2 separate regions of the Homo sapiens genome follow, and region 1 is linked to region 2. The links come from fine-mapping of genetic effects on gene expression. Tissue or cell type: skeletal muscle. Region 2 holds a variant in brackets; the other region holds the start of a gene. All regions are shown on one strand. Distances are between the middles of the regions.

What was found. PIP is the estimated chance that this variant, and not a neighbour inherited with it, causes the effect.
Region 1: VDAC2 starts here. The variant in region 2 is fine-mapped to the expression of VDAC2 in skeletal muscle (GTEx, PIP 0.97).

What each region holds. Positions count from the first base shown.
Region 1 is chr10:75,207,299-75,215,445 of GRCh38, forward strand. VDAC2 (voltage dependent anion channel 2) reads left to right here and starts at 3,498. Exons shown (of 10, transcript NM_001391963.1): 1 at 3,498-3,640; 2 at 3,836-3,891; 3 at 4,932-5,000; 4 at 6,723-6,772. The coding sequence starts at 3,861. RefSeq lists enhancers at 1-508, 2,821-3,402, 3,133-3,427 and silencers at 673-967, 3,072-3,381, 3,402-3,771.
Region 2 is chr10:75,082,088-75,090,268 of GRCh38, forward strand. It overlaps the pseudogene PPIAP13. Among named protein-coding and RNA genes, the nearest start is that of DUSP29, 13 kb to the left of the region's middle. RefSeq lists enhancers at 257-757, 2,765-3,265. The variant C/A (reference allele first, on the strand shown) is at 3,823.

The DNA.
Region 1 (8,147 bases), 130 kb after region 2:
CGGGACAACTCGAAGTGGGGAGAGGGCTTCCAGGTCACAAGTAGGTGAGAGACAAATGGTTGCAATGAGTTTCTGATTAGCCTCTCCAAAGGAGGCAATCAGATACGCATTTATCTCAGTGAGCGGAAGGATGACTTTGAACAGAATGGGAGGCAGGTTTGCCCTAAGCAGTTCCCAGCTTGACTTTTCCCTTTAGCTTAATGATCTTGGGGGCCCAAGATATTTTCCTTTCACAGTATGAAGGTTGGGCAGATTTGTTAGCAGCTCCTTCTAAGACACGTGGTTTTGTAAGCTTAGGGTTCCTTGGCTGTGACACGAATGCATGCTGTGCACAGCATCCACCTAAGCTGCTCTGGCATCATCCTTGAGGGACACAGAGGACAGGGGGAATTGAGGCAAAACACGAAGCTTACACTGCCTGCTGGGCCACAAGTAAGAGAGTCTTTTGTCCTTGACCCATACGTCTCATGTCTTCTGCTAGCATCTGTGAGCCTCTGAAACTATGGCAGACTAACTTGATAGTTTGCAAGTAGGGTAAACTTTTGGACCCTCCCCTGTTCTTGACATCTTTACACACACTTGACTGTTAAGTGCCTTGAGAGTAGGGACTGTGTCTCAGTGGACTTTGCTTACCCTGTGGATGACACAAAGTAGTTGCTTGTGGTAGGTAGTAACTACCTACTAATGCCGCTTTGGTCTAAAGGACTTTGGATGTAAGCACTCATATTTATTTACTAAATTCAGCTCTGGAAAAAACTGCCATTATTCCCCTGTTTAGCCACAGATCTTCTTCCCCTGGTCATTAGGTATTGTGTACATTCCTTGGGTTTGCAGAAGGTGAAGCCACAGAGAAAGTGAAGTGCAGGGGGCTACAAATTGCTACAGAAAATTCACATTGTGAATAAGCCCTGCTGCAGGTAGTGGAGGTGACTCATTTATCAGACTGGGTGTTTCGGGGAGGTAGGGTGCTGTGGTGCAGTTGGGATGGAAATGCCGGTCTTTGTTGTTAGCCTCACAATAACATCAAACATACCAGACTATTTCCCAGAAGAGCCAGGATGACTGCAAACCGACCTGTCTGAGCTCGAATGAAGGAATGAATGAGGGCTTCTGGTGCCTGATGTCTTAGAAGTAAATTCTGCTAACCTTTTGCAACATGAGTAAGCCCAGTCATGACCAGGCAAGACAGCTGGCTGGGCTTGCTCATGGGAGGGAAATCTTCCAGGCTGCAGCTTTCATCTGGGTTTTGAACTGTGGAAGCCTATCCTTTTCTGGTTTAGGAGGAGGGTAGAACGTTGAGAGCATTTGAGCAGACATGGCTTTCAGAGCCAGAGAAAGTCAAGGGGGAAAAGGCTTTGCTCAGAGACTATGGCTGATGGCTATTAAAGATCACTTCGTTTCATTTGTCATTTTATAGATTAAAAAAATGAGGTAGGCCGAGCGCGGTGGCTCACACCTGTAATCCCAGCACTTTGGGAGGCCGAGACTGGCAGATCACGAGGTCAGGAGATCGAGACCATCCTGGCTAACATGGTGAAACCCCGACTCTACTAAAAATACAAAAAATTAGCCGGGCGTGGTGGCAGGCACCTGTGGTCTCAGCTACTCGGGAGGCTGAGGCAGGAGAATGGCGTGAACCCGGAAGGTGGAGATTGCAGTGAGCCGAGATCGCGCCACTGCACTCCAGTCTGGGCGACAGAGCGAGACTCCGTCTCAAAAAAAAAAGAAGAAAACCCAAAAAAACCACTGAGGTCTACCGGCGACATTATTGGATAGATGACTGCTTTGGGAGTTCCAGTTGAACCCATTTCTATTTCATTAGACTGCTCATTTTTTCTTTTTCCTTTGGCTCTGTTAAAAGAAAAAATTACAAAGAATTTAGTTTAAACATCTTAACTGGCTTTTAGTTCCAATTCTACAATTGGGCAACGCTTCATTCTGTAAAATGGAATGAATGTTCCAATGAGAAGAGGAAGTTGGTATTACAGACAGAAAAGGACCGAGGAAAGCAGAAACAAAAAGTGGATTAGTTGGTAGAAAGTTACTTTTCTTGTAAAGGTTAAAGAACACGGGACTTCTTCATGCCAGCTAAAACTGACCTGTTTGGGGATTTTTGTTTTGAGACAGGGTCTTACTCCAGCGGGCAGGCTGGAGTGCAGTAGTGGCACCATCTAAGCTTACTACAGCCTCAACCTCCCAGGCTCAAGCGATCCTCCCTCCTCAGCCTCCCAATTAGCTGGGACTACAGGCGCCAGCCACCACGCCCGGCTATTTTTTTTTTTTTTTTTTTTTTTTTTGGTAGAGGCAGGGTATTACTATGCCTAGGCTGGTCCGGAACTCCTGAGCTCAGGCGATCCGCCCACCTCGGCATCCAAAAGTGCTGGTATTACAGGTGTGAGCCACCGCGCCCAGCCTGTTTGGGGATCTGGCTAGCATCTGTTTCTCTCCTGATTTCTTGGAAGGTCAGATAAAGATCCTAGCTTTGGCGTGGTAGTGTGAAACTTCAGCATGAGTAACCCCATTTTGGTTTGGTCTGATGGGCCTAATGCAGGAGGTCAGTCTAAACTAACGGTCTCCCATATACATTTTATCTAATAGCTCTGTCACCCTTCCTGCACACCCGGGGAACTCGGGTGCGGCATTCTAACGCCTGCTCAGCATGATTCCACATTTTCTCCAGGCCCATAATCCAGAGGAGGTTGGGCCCGGAGCAGGCTTGCCTCGCCAAGCTCCGGCTCCGTGCGTGTGTGAAGCAGTGCCATGCCTGAGTGGGGAGGAGCCGCGGAAGAGAAAGCGTAAGGCGGCGTGGAAATGGGTGGGGCACGCTAGGACCCGCTCACATTTGTTCAGGGAGAGGCAGTCCCAAAAAGCCTCTCAGGCACACAACCCAGCACAGCAAGGCAGTCACACCAAGGTGGGAAAAGAGGGCAGAAGAGCGCGAGGGGCTGGAGGTGGCGCCCCTGTGTCCCACTCGTTCTCCCTGGGCTGGGAAAGAGAAGCGGTCCCTCAGAAGCGCAGGCTGCGCTAGCTTAGGATGGACGTGGGTAACGCTCAGCTGACTCCCCGCAGGCACCCTATGCAGGGCTTTGTTTCGGGGGGGAACCCGCACCAGCGCGTAAGGGGAGTAGGAGAGATCTACGTGACCCTGGTGCGCAGCCGCGCCCTATCGCCCCGGCCACGCGCCGACGCCCCGCCCCGTCCGTGACGCGTTCGCGCGGGGCCTCCGCCCCATCCCCCTCCCAGGCGGTCCCCAGCGCGCTGCCTCCGCCGTTCCCCGCCCCCTCGCCTCTGAGGCTGCCCGGATAGCTGCCTGATCCAAGGCCCAGCAGCTTCTGCCTTCCGGATCCCCACCGACGGACGGAGGCAGCCCACCTGCAGGACCGGGGCGCTGTCGGTCCACGTGGCCGCTCTGGAGCAGGTTGGAGTTGGCAGCGGGCTGCGCTGCAGGGACAGGCGCGGCGGACAGCCCCGGGGGCAGCGGCGGGGTCCTGTCTGGGAGAGGACAGGGTTGCGGCGGGCGGAACGGTGTCTCCTTCACTTCGCCCTCCAGCTGCTGGAGCTGCAGCCCGACCGCGAGCGTGCCAAGCGGCTTCAGCAGCTAGCGGAGCGGTGGCGGCGGCCCCCCTCAGGACACCACCAGGTACCGCCGCGCCCGCCTCACGCCGACCCAGGGGCCTAGGCCGCGGCGGCCAAGCCGGAGGCCCGCGCCGGACTCGGAGTCGGCCCTGGCTTCCTAAGATGGCCGCGCTGCCCCGCGGCCCCTCGCCCCTCTCTGCCCGGGATCTCCCTTTGGCCCTTTGACCCCAGCTTACCGCACTTCTTGTCCCTCCCGCAGATTCCCCTCTTCCCGCGGCCTCGCCATGGCGACCCACGGACAGACTTGCGCGCGTCGTAAGTAAAGCTGGGATCTCTGCGGGATGGGGCGGCGGAGAGTCGAAGCCTGTCGACCAGAAACCCAGTTTGTTTCCCCCTATCTTTCCAAGAACTTGGAAATTCGGCTGCTTTTGGTGGTCGCCCCACCGTCTGACCACCTCCTCTGCGGAGGAGGGGCTGGGCTGCTGGATTTCAAATGGGGAACAAGGCCCGGGGAGTTGGTCTGTGGCCGCATGGACTTTTCAGCCTTTGTACATGTCTTTGACGTATAGAAGTAAAAAGTTGTTAATTGGGGATTCTGCCTTTGGAGGATCGGATCAATCACTTTTCTAGAGGAAGTAGCAGTCCCTCTTGTGAGAGCGCAAGGTCATTACTTGTGCTCCTAAGGGCGTGGACGTGCTTTGTGGAATGAATGAGCTGGTGTAATGAGCTCAGATTGCCTGCCCTTAAGCAGCACAGCATTGGCCGAGGACTTGAGAGTCACATTAGTAAGTTTGAAGCGCTATTTGATATTTAGTTGATGTAGACATTTGAGTGAAACACACATGGCAGTATTTTTTCCAAGTTTCAATATTTAAATTCCCAGTATTAAATTCTCTTCCCACTCCAGGGTGTTGGTTTTCCCCTCAGCGAAGATATTAAAGGACGTATCAGGGTAAAGGGCCTAGTCTTAGGTTTCGGTTTTATCTAATTTAGTTAAATCAGCTCATCTCAGTGAATTTTGGCAGATACATAAATATCCATACACACAAATACTTGTTTGATTCTTTGTACTTGTCCAGTCCTAGGAAGTGAGGCTGTAGGTAATAGACTGTTTTTCCGTTTTGAAACGAATTCCCCAAGTTTGTATAATCATGGTTATCTGTTTTAGAAATAATTCGTTGGTGGTATCTCCTTTATGGGTCGTTATAGTTCTATTGTAGCTCCTGACCGCATAAAAAACATTCCAACAAATGGGATTGCTTGAATTTTAATATCAGCAGTGGGTCATGCTCTTGTTCTTGGATAGAAGGTGGGAGAATAGAGACATTAACACTGGAATGTTTTTTTTCTACCAGCAATGTGTATTCCTCCATCATATGCTGACCTTGGCAAAGCTGCCAGAGATATTTTCAACAAAGGATTTGGTAAGAACCTTATTTTTAAAACGTTTTAGATAAAGAGTGAAAATGTATGTTTGGGTTGCTTAGCGAAATCAGATCAATCATTGCAAATTGTAAATATCTTGCTGCTTTAAATTTAGAGTTACTTATTTTTTTGAGACAGGGTCTCCCTCTGTTGCCCAGGCTGGATGCAGTGGCATGATTATACCTCACTGCAGCCTGGACCTCCTGGGCTCAAGCGATCATCTTTCCTCAGCCTCCCACGTCCCAAGTAGCTGGGACTACAGGCACGCTCTGCCACACCTGGCTAATTTTTTTTATTTTTCGTAGAGGTGGGGTCTCACTGTGTTACCCAGTAAACACAGTGGCCTCTCAAAGCCTGGTTGGATTACGTTACAGACATGAGCCACTGTGCCCAGCCTTGTATTAATTCTTCTATTAGAAACTTAAGATACTTAGATTAAACTTATGTGAAAATAGTTCTTTTACAGTCTACATCCCCCTCCCCCAATTTCCCAAAATTTTTAAAAACTGTACTTAGAAGATTTGAGCCTTTAAGAAAAACGGCTCGTGCTTTAATTTTTTTTCAGTTATAGCTTAGGCCCTGGTTGACTAGAGTTACGATATATTACTGTTTTGCTTTTGTGGTGACTCCTAATACTTTATCTAGAGTTATGAGCTTTTTCAGGTGAATTTGAGTTTTCTTGAAAATTTTGTTCCATACCCTCCTCCCCTTTATTTAGACTGTTGGAAATACCCCATTGGCATAAATGTCCTAAATGTCTGTATTATGATAAGTTGGTTTTGTTTTTGTTTTTTTTTGAGACGGAATCTCGCTCTGTTGCCCAGGCTGGAGTACAGGGGCGTGATCTCGGCTCCCTGCAGCCTCTGCCTCCTGGGTTCCAGCAATTCTCCTGCCTCAGCCTCTCTGGTAACTGGGATTACAGGCACATGCCACCATGCCCAGCTTTTTTTTTGTATTTTTAGTAGAGACGAGGTTTCACCATGTTGGCCAGGCTGGTTTTGAACTCCTGATCTCAAGTGGTCTGCCTGCCTCGACTACCCGAAGTGCTAGGATTTCAGGCGTGGGCCACCGCACCTGGCCATATCATGATAAGTTATTAGCTATTCTGAAATTTCAGTTGAATGATTTTTTAATCTGATATTTAAGTTTAAGAATAGTTTGGGGGCTGGGCGTGGTGGCTCACACCTGTAATCCCAGCACTTTGGGAGGCCGAGGCGGGCAGATCACGAGGTCAGGAGATCGAGACCATCCTAGCTAACACGGTGAAACCCCATCTCTACTAAAAATACAAAAAATTAGCCAGGCGTGGTGGCACGCACCTGTAGTCCCAACTACTCGGGAGACTGAGGCAGGAGAATCGCTTGAACCCAGGAGGTGGAGGTTGCAGTGAGCTGAGATCGTGCCACTGCACTCCAGCCTGGGCAACAGAGTGAGACTCCGTCTCAAAATAAATAAATAAATAAATAAATAATTTGAAAGCATTCTTTTGTGTACCAACTACCAAAAACTAGACAAAGCAGCATAGGGATAATTCTGCCCTTTATAAGCCAGTTTACAAAAGACGAATTTGTAACAATTTCATTTAAATATTGTATATTAACACATTTTTATCCACCTCTGAATATGTGGAATCTTTTTGTTTTTTATGTATAGTCAACAATTGCTATGCATCTTTCATACAAAGGAATCATTTTGTTTCTTTTGCTGTCTATTTGTTGAAGGTTTTGGGTTGGTGAAACTGGATGTGAAAACAAAGTCTTGCAGTGGCGTGGTGAGTGTTACTGTTGAATAAGTTCTATTGAACCTTTATAATTTTTCAACTTGTAAAATGGTCATAACTGAAAGATGTCTACCTGTTTTGTCTTAAAGAAGAGGCAGAAGTTAACTTTGTTTTAAGAGATTTGCGTGTAACCTGATTTATTTTGGCCTTGAATGTGATTTCTGATTTTCATGTGGTCTTTCGTCATATTATGTATGCACAAGGAACTTAGGAAAGACCAGTCAGGTGGTACTCTTTACTCGTAAGATTACACATTTGAAGGCAGGGAACCCATTATTAGACTTTTTTGTAACCCTTTGTCAACAATGCTCGTCAGAGTTATGGGCATAAAAATATCAGGAACTCATTAATTTGAGTGTACTAATCATTTATATAATGTCCATTTTCTAGCAGTTCTCCCTGGAGAAGATTTCCACATGTATTTTATGAGTTTAGGGAGTCCTGATCTGAATTTTTTTTTTTTGAGACGGAGTCTCACTGTGTCACTTAGACTGGAGTGCAATGGTGTGATTGTGGCTCACTGCAACCTCCGCCTCCTGAGTTCAGGTGATTCTCTTGCCTCAGCCTCTCTAGTAGCTGGAATTACAGGTGCCTGCCACCACGCCTGACTGATTTTTGTATTTTTAGTAGAGCTGGGGTTTCACCATGTTGGCCAGGCTGGTCTCCAACTCCTGACCTCAGGTGATCCACCCACCTTGGCCTCCCAGAGTGCTGGGATTACAGGTGTGAGTCACCATGCCCAGCCAAGAATATTTTTAAAGAGGTTAATATTTTGGTATTTGGGTGTCTTGATAGTTCAATGAACTGTTTACAAAGGGGATAAACTAATATTTAACTTTTTTCGAGACAGGGTCTCACTCGGTTGCCCAGGCTGGAGTGCAGTGAGTGCAGTGGCACAATCTCAGCTCACTGCAGCCTCGACCTCTTGGGCTCAAGCAATCTTCCCACCTCAGCCTCCCAAGCATCTGGGAGTACAGGCCGTATCCATCATGCCTGAGTATTTTTTGTAGTTTTTCTAGAGATGACGTTTTGCCATGTTGCCCAGGCTAGTCTTGAACTCCTGAGCTCAAGTGATCCACTTGCCTTGGCCTCCCAAAGTGCTGGGATTACAGATGTGAGCCACCATGCCCAGCTAGTAAAATTTAACTTTGTGAAATTTTTTTTACTTAAAAAATTTTTGTTTTGAGATTATTTTAGGGGTGGGTGTGTGTGCACATTAGAATACTATAGGTTATTTTGATATATGTATGTATGTATATATATAGAGAGAGAGAGACTTTTTTTTTTTTTGAGACGGAGTCTTGCACTGTCACCCAGGCTGGAGTGCAGTGGCATGATCTCAGCTCACTGCAAGCTCCACCTCCCA
Region 2 (8,181 bases):
TGTATATTCAAGAATAAATGAAATAATACACAGTGCTTAACACAGGCCCTAGCACATAACCATTGTTGTTTTAAGAAAGGCTTTCTAATCCTACTGCTGTAGCTTTTCCCACAAGATGCTGGTGGGTTGGGCTAGCAAAGCAACTCACTACTTGGGTGTCTGGGCACAAGGTCTGGGACTGTCCCCGAGGCCAGTTTCAGGAGGGAAGGATGTCTGCGGGCATGACCCAGGAATCTGAGAGACCCTCGTGGCTGCAGTTGGGCTTGAAACCAGTCAAAAACTCACTCATTCTACCCATTCCTGTACAGCAAATAGTGACCCATTGCCTATTACGAGCTGAAAATTACTCTAGAATCTGAGTGAAAAGTACCAACAAGAGACACTGTGCACTGCCCTCATGTTGCTGCTATTCTTTCCACTGGGATGTGCAAAGAATGTGAGGTGTCTATTTTTCTTTGGCTCTTCTACCTTTCCCCACATGACCGGCCCCACCCTGCTGGGAATTGAGGACATTTAAATGGCTAAATGATAATGCCACAGTCCCTTCCCAGTTAAAAGCTCAAGTGGGCTGGGTGCTGTGGTTCATGCCTGTAATTCCAACACTTTGAGAGGCCAAGATGGGAGGATCACTTGAGGCCAGGAGTTCAAGACCAACCTGGGCAACATCTCTACAAAAACAAAAAACAAAAAAACAAAAATAAAAAACCAACCAGTTCTAGTGGTGCACGCCTGTAGTCCCAGCTACTCAGAAGACTGAGGTGGGAGGATCACTTGAGCCCAGAAGGTTGAAGCTGCAGTGAGCAGTGAATGCACCACTGCGCTCCAGCCTGGGTAGCAGTGAGACCCTGTCCCAACAACAACAAACAAACAAAAAAACAACACCTCAAGCACTTCAAATTCCCTTCTCCTGCCCAAGATGGATTATGGATGACATCAGGGTTTATTGCAAGAAGCAAGGTGGCAAGAAGGCCTTGATGCTATGGGCCCCTTGAGTCTGGCTGTTACACGTTTACGTTGGTGCAAAATGATCTTCCAGAAGCCTGAGTAAAGAGCAAAGTCCCCCTCTTTCAGTGTCTTCCTCGTTCTATATGGCACCCCCACCTACATCTGGGACACTGTCTTAGAGAAGGGAGGTCACCCTCCATAGACCTCTGTTGCTGCCCCTCCTCACCTCCCTCTTCTTCAAGCATCCTCTTTCTTTTCCTTTCTTACCAGAATATCCTCTCCTCTTGGCCTCCTCCTACTGGATGTGGCCCCCCTTTCCCATTTTTCTGGGACAATAATGACAAAATGACTTCCAGGTAGGGTTGAAAGATTTACAAATAAATGGGTTATTGTGTTTTGTTTTTTGAGATAGGGTCTTGCTCTGTCACCTAGGCTGGAATGCAATGGCACGATCACAGCTGACTGCAGCCTTGACCTCCCAGGCTCAAGCAATCCTTCCACCTCAGCCTCCTGAGTAGCTGGGACTACAGGCATGCACCACCACACCTGGCTACTTTTTTTCTTTATTTTTTGTAGAGATGGGGGTCTCATTTTGTTGCCCATGCTGGTCTTGAACTCCTAGTCTCAAGTGATCTTCCTGCCTTGGCCTCCCAAAGTGCTGGGATTAGAGGCATGAGCCACTGCACCGGCCTACAAATAAATTTTTAGATTAAGTTTGTCCCATGCTTCTTTGGGACGTATTTATGTTAAAAAGTTATCTGTTGCTTATCTGAAACTCAAATTTAACCGGGTGTCCTGTATTTTATCTGGCAACCCTACTTCTAGACAACCTAATTGTCGGCGAGAGGAATGAAAAGTACAGCCATTCAGTATTTTCAAAATATTATGCTTAATACAGGGCTTACCTCCTTCTGGCCTCTTGTCTGGACAGACTTACACAGGCTTCAGAAAGAAGGTAGGTTTCTCCCTACCTTCCCCCCTAGCATGGGCTATTCTGTTCCTTAGAGGAGCCCATTGTGTCTGTTGTGTGTGAGGGGGGTGGAGTTGGGGGGAGGATGGAGGAATCAACTCTGGTTTTCTGCCCTTCCTCCCCCAATCACACCAGGCAGGCTTCCCTGGGATGTGGGTAGCCCCATCCTGTCGGCAAAGCAATTGCTTACCTAGGATTTTATGAGGACATTTTTATTGAGCTGTAATTGAAAAAAAAATTCCAAGACATTCCAGATTTTTCTCATAAGCCTGCTTCAGGTGTGTATGCATGCGTGTGTGTGTGTGTGCGCATGTATGAACATGCATATACTTTGGCCAGACCACACCGGCGTCTTTGTTGAAAAAGTGAGGAGGTTTCATGTAAGGCATTTTACTTTTCTCTCCTTTTCTCTAAATTAAGGATCAGAATAAAGATCAGTAGGGATTCTGGAGAGCCTGCAAGAATCTTTTCATTAAGCAAATACTGCAGTAGCTGGAGAATCTGAGTGTTACGTAGGAGGGCTGTGCTTGTCATGACAGCCTAATATCCTAATGGAAGTTGACAACCATAGTTACGAAATCTATAATAGAATGCAGAGCCTGTTATCTCTGTGAAACTGCTTGGCAAAAGTTTGTAAATTATATACATATATTTAAAGAATGTGAAGTAAAGCCAGATGAGGGTCTTTTAGACTCAAATGGCCCTGTTATGTCCTCCTGCCTCACTCACGCACCTCCCCCCACTGCTGTTCTGAGAAGCTGCAGGAAAAGACAGCGTCTCTCTTGGGGTCTGTGTTACCAGCCCTCCCACCGCCCACTCAGGAAGGATGGAGATACAGGTCTTCCTTCTGTGCTCTTGATTGTCTCAGCAGAAGGAGAGATACTCAAGCTTGTACTGAGCGCCTACTATGTGCCAGGCACTGGGCTGCTTTGTTATTTCCACCCTCCCAGCAGAGCTGCGCAAGGCTGTTAATCCTTCCCACTTTGACACTTGAGGAACCTGAGGCTCAGAGGAGTTCAATATCTGCTCAGGTTCACACAGCTGGTCGTAGCTCCTGATCGCAGGAGGAGTCGCAGCGAAAACCCGAGTCCACCCGTGTCCAAGGCCCGGTTCTTTCTACCTTTCAGTTCCTGCCCCAGGCAGCGGCGCAGCTTGGTGGTGGCGGTGCGTGGGTGGCGGGGTGTGTTACGATCTCCTTGCTGGAGACATGTGGCTGCTTCTCAAGAGGGACAGCGCTGGATGGAGAGTGAGTGAGATCGGCCACATACCTCTGTGTGGTGCCCATTTCTGGGACAGTCCTGGATCCATCGACCCGCCATCCTCCCAAAGGTGCTCCCTCTCTTCAGGTGGTGCCCATGGTCCTATCAAGGTTCAAGAAGTGAATGATGAGTTTCTTTCAGATGCCACAAGGTGGACCCCCACTCAGGTGACCTCAGAGGTTCATGAGTAACACACTTAAGAGCAAGGACTCTGCTGGGCAATGGGAGTGCCTCCCGGCATGGCCATGGCTCCCTGGCCGGCTCCGCATGGGTTCTCAAGTGCAGACTGCTCTGCCTCCCAGTGCTCTGGTTACGGAGACTCTCCTCTGCTTTGCCTCTGAGGTTCCTGTGGCTGCAGCTGCCTGCCTCTGGTTCTTGGTGACTTCTGCTGCCTTCTGGCTCCTGCTTCCTGATCTCTCTCTCCAGGCACCTTCCAACCCAACCTGCCACCTCTGACTCTGTCTCCCATTCAAACTCTCCCAGAAAGCGCCTCACTGGGTGGGCAATTCCCCGTCCTGTCAATGGCAGCTCTTACATGAAAGGGCCTCACAGGCCTCTGGCTACCTGTGGGTCAGGAGACAGAACAGTTAAGACCAGGTTTGGGGCAAGTAATGGAGACTTCAAAAATAGTGGCTTAAACAAGATAAT[C/A]ATTTCTCTCTCAGAAATTATAAACTTTGCTTATTTCTCTCTCAAGATAATCATTTCTCTCTCGCTCGTCCTGGACTGCAGAGGCGGTTCAGGACAAGCAGGGAGCCCCACGCTCACATTCACACTCCAGGCAGCACCACGGAGGTGATTTTTTTCTTTTTTTTTGAGATGGAGTCTCCCTCTGTCGCCCAGGCTGGAGTGCAGTGGCACCATCTCAGCTCACTGCAACCTCCCCCTCCAGGATTCAAGTGATTCTTCTGCCTCAGCCTCCCTAGTAGCTGGGACTACAGGTGCCCACCACCATGGCCGGCTAATTTTTGTGTTTTTGGTGGAGACAGGGTTTCATCATGTTCGCCAGGCTGGTCTTGAACTCCTGACCTCAGGTGATCTACCCGCCTCGGCCTAGTCTTTCCCTTTCAAAGAGACTTTTCACAAGTTCCACACAAGAATTCCACTTACGTTTCATCTGCCAGAATGTAGTCATTTGGTCACACTTACCTGCAAGGAGGCTGGGAGATGTTCTACTTTAGCTGGGTTCATGGCCACCCAGATAACACTCGAGGCTCTTTGCCAAAGTAAAGGGGAGAATAAATATTGGGAGGCAAGTAGAAGTCGCTATCCAGCTCCAGACAAAGATTCTTGGCTTGACCAAACTTCAGTCAGGCTCCTGAACCTTCTTCTCGGCCCACCTGTGCACTTCCTGGTAAAATTGAGTTTTAGCAACAACCCTGCTAAGTCAGTTTATCAGGAACTCCTCCCTGCCCCCGCTCCCTTGCATATCTGATCAGGTTTCTCCTCCTCCACCCTTCTTCAGGTGATATCGAGCCATCCTGGCCTGTTTTCAGCAAAAATCCTATTAGGCTAGTTTAGCCAAAATCCCTCTTATCCCTGATATTTCCTCTTGGTAATTTTCCTTCCACTAACTCTACCCCTCTCCTTGTCTATAAAGTCCCACTTGTCCATGCCGTATTCAGAGTTGAACCCAATCTCTTCTTCCCACTGCAAAATCCCACTGTTGTGGTCCCCATACCCATCTCGGTGGTCCTGAAGTCTTCCTTTCTGTGCTTTAACAAGCATCACCAATTTTTTTTTTTTTAACAGGGCTCATCCTAATGCAGCCGTCTCTGGCTAGGACAGCAGATCCACCCTGTAAAGAGTTTGTGAGGCCAGGAATCCCTCAGAAAGGGGTGCTGGCACGATGGGTGCCTTGCACAGGCTGGACAGAGTGCTCATTCATATTCATGTGGCATGGCTGCAAAGGAACCAGAAGAGCCTCTTCACCCCACTCCCAAGCTTCCCCCTTAGCACTGCTGCCTGCAAGTTCATCACTCAAATGAAGTGATGCCTTCTCCAGCACTCCTTTTAAAGTGTGCCCCTGATCCTGGGCCCTCCCTCACAATCACTATCCAAGTCAGGATGGTCCTAGCAATCACTATCACTAAGCTGGAGCCCACAAGCCTAGTCTGACGGGGTCATAGTCATGGGTCCCAGGAGCCCCATCACAGGCTCAGAGGGTCCAGGAGGCAAAGCCCAAACACCTGCACAGGTGTGAAAGGGAAAGGGTTCTGAGGAGGGAGCGGGAGGGTGGGGGTGGGGGAAGAATGGGCTGATGGAAGGCTCTGAAGTAGCAGCCGGAGCGCAGAAAATCTCAGAGGAGGGGAAATGCTAGCAGCTCCCAAGGAGAGAGACCAGGCTGACCTGACATCATACGGATCAAGAAGCACGGATGAGGAGATGAATGCAGACACCTGGGGGAATGAGCTGAGAAAAGCAGAGTGATCTGAGGCAAAGGAGAATAATGGTGGTGGTTCCTCCTGCTTGGCAGGGAGGGTAGTACCTGGGGAGGATGTCATGGGGTAGGCCAGTTCCCCTTGAGTTTTCCCCAACCAAGTTTCCCCCAAGGCCTCCCTGGTTACGGAGTCCACACTGCAACTGCCCTCCCCACCCCAGGGCAGAAAGCAGAGGAGGCAGTCATCAAGGACTGGCTCTGAGCTAGAGGCCAGCAGAACCCCCAGGAGGCCTTGCCGAGGGCAGGAAGGAGGTCTCGGGCCTCTCAGCTGGAGTTTATTGTCCTGGGAGGAAGGTAGGATGGCGGGAGCTTAGGAAAGAGCTGGGGATGTGGATGAGGAGTGGGGAAAGGTTCTCTTTCTGGTAGCCTCTCCACCCTCCCCATCTCAAGGCCTTTGCCACCAATATCCCCCTTGGGCCCCTAACATCTTTCCTGGTCTCCAGTGGAGCTCTATTGCCGTCTTCATTCCCCTGTAGACACAGGGCCTCTCATCTCCATGCACTCAGCACCGGGGTGATGGATGTAGCCGCCCTGTCGCTTCCTCACTCACACACTCCTCTGGAGGCTAATGAAGTGGCTACAAGCCAGGGCTGCTGGTCAGACCTGGCTCTGCCCCTGTGCTGCTTACCCATTGATGTGTAACAAACTACCCCAAAACTTAGTGACTCCAAACAAGAGCATTTTCTGATATCTCATTTTAGGTCAGTAATTCAGGAGGGTTCAGTAAACAATTTTGCTGTTCCATGTGGCATTGACAGAGGTCACTCTGTGGTATTTCGCTGGCAGATATGCTGGTATGGAGTAAACAAGAAAGGGTCACACAAATGTCTAGTGTCTGGGCTCAGTGAGGCTGTCAACCAGTTGGCCTACCCATGACCAGTCCAGCATGGCAGAGTGGGGCACAGGCCGACTTCTACAGGGTGGCTCAGGATTCCCAGAGAGCACATTCCAAGAGACCCAGGTAGAAGATGCAAAGTGTCTTATGACAGCCTCGGAAGCCCCAGAATGCTGCTTCTGCTGCATTCTCCTGGCCAGCAAGTCACTAAGGCCAATCCAGAATGGAGGCTCACGAAGTGTTTAAGAACACAGGTTCACTGACTGAGTTGGTAGTATGATTCTACCCTGCTAGCTAAGCAACCTGAGAAACTTTACTTAAGCTCTTTAAGCCTCAGTTTTCTTATCTGTAAAATGGGAATAACAACATTATCTACCTCTTAGGGTTTATGAGAGTTTAATTGTATATACATATATATAATTTCTAAATTAATACAAATGTAAAAATTATACATATAAATTATACATGTGTGTATGTGTATGTATATATTTTGTTTGTTTGTTTGGCATTTAGTTTTTATTTCATAATCATAAACTTAACTCTGCAATCCAGCTGGGCATGGAAGGGAACAAGGAAAACATGGCACCCAAAGGGAACTGCAGTGAGAGCACAAAGATTCTAGGATACTGCGAGCAAATTGGGTGGAAGGATGCTCTCCTGAGTTACAGAAGGAATGGTCTGGAGGTTAAGATAAAACACAAGTCAAACTTATTAGAGTTGTCCACAGTCAGCAATGGTGATCTTCTTGCTGGTCTTGCCATTCCTGGACCCTCCATGGCCTCCACAATATTCATGCCTTCTTTCACCTTGCCAAAGGCCACATGCTTGCCATCCAACCACTTAGTCTTGGCAGTGCAGATGAAAAACTGGGAACCATTTGTGTTGGGTCCAGCATTTGCCATGGATAAGATGCCAGGACCTGTATGCTTTAGGATGAAGTTCTCATCATCAAATTTCTCCCAGTAGATGGACTTGCCACCAGTGCCATTATGGCATGTGAAGTCACCACCCTGACACATAAACCCTGGAATAATTCTGTGAAAGCAGGAACCCTTACAACCAAATCCTTTCTCTCCAGTGCTCAGAGCACGAAAGTTTTCTGCTGTCTTTGAAACTTTGTCTGCAAACAGCTCGAAGGAGACACAGTCTAAGGGCTCGCGGCGATGTCAAAGAACATGGTGGGGTTAACCATGGCTGATAGTACAGGGCTCCTGCCAGTGGCTGTGGCGTCTGCAAAGCCTGTTTTTGTTTTTTTTAATGCCCGCTGTAGAAAGCTCATGATCATCAATATCTGCAGTTTCCTCTTCTTCTTGGGCACCACCCTAGACTATTTCCTGGCTTCCCCTGCAGTTAGGTGTGGCCATGTGACTGGTTCTGGCCCATGGAACTTGAGGGGCAGTAGTAGACCTGGCCTCCATTCCTCCATGCTTACTCTCCTGGCCCTCCATCTACCTGTGTTTGAATAAAAAATAAAGCATGGCCTGGCCAGGTGTGGTGGCTCATGCCTGTCATCCCAGCACTTTGGGAGGCCAAGGCAGGAGGATCGCTTGAGTCCAGGAGTTTGGGAACAGAGTGGTAACATAGGGAGACCCCGTCTCTACAAAAAGTCAGCTGGGCGTGGTGGCATGTGCCTGTGGTCCCAACTACTTGGGAGGCTGAGGTGGGAGGACCCCTTGAGCCCAGAAAATCGAGGCTGCAGTGAGCTGTGATTGTACCACTGGACTCCAGCCTGGGC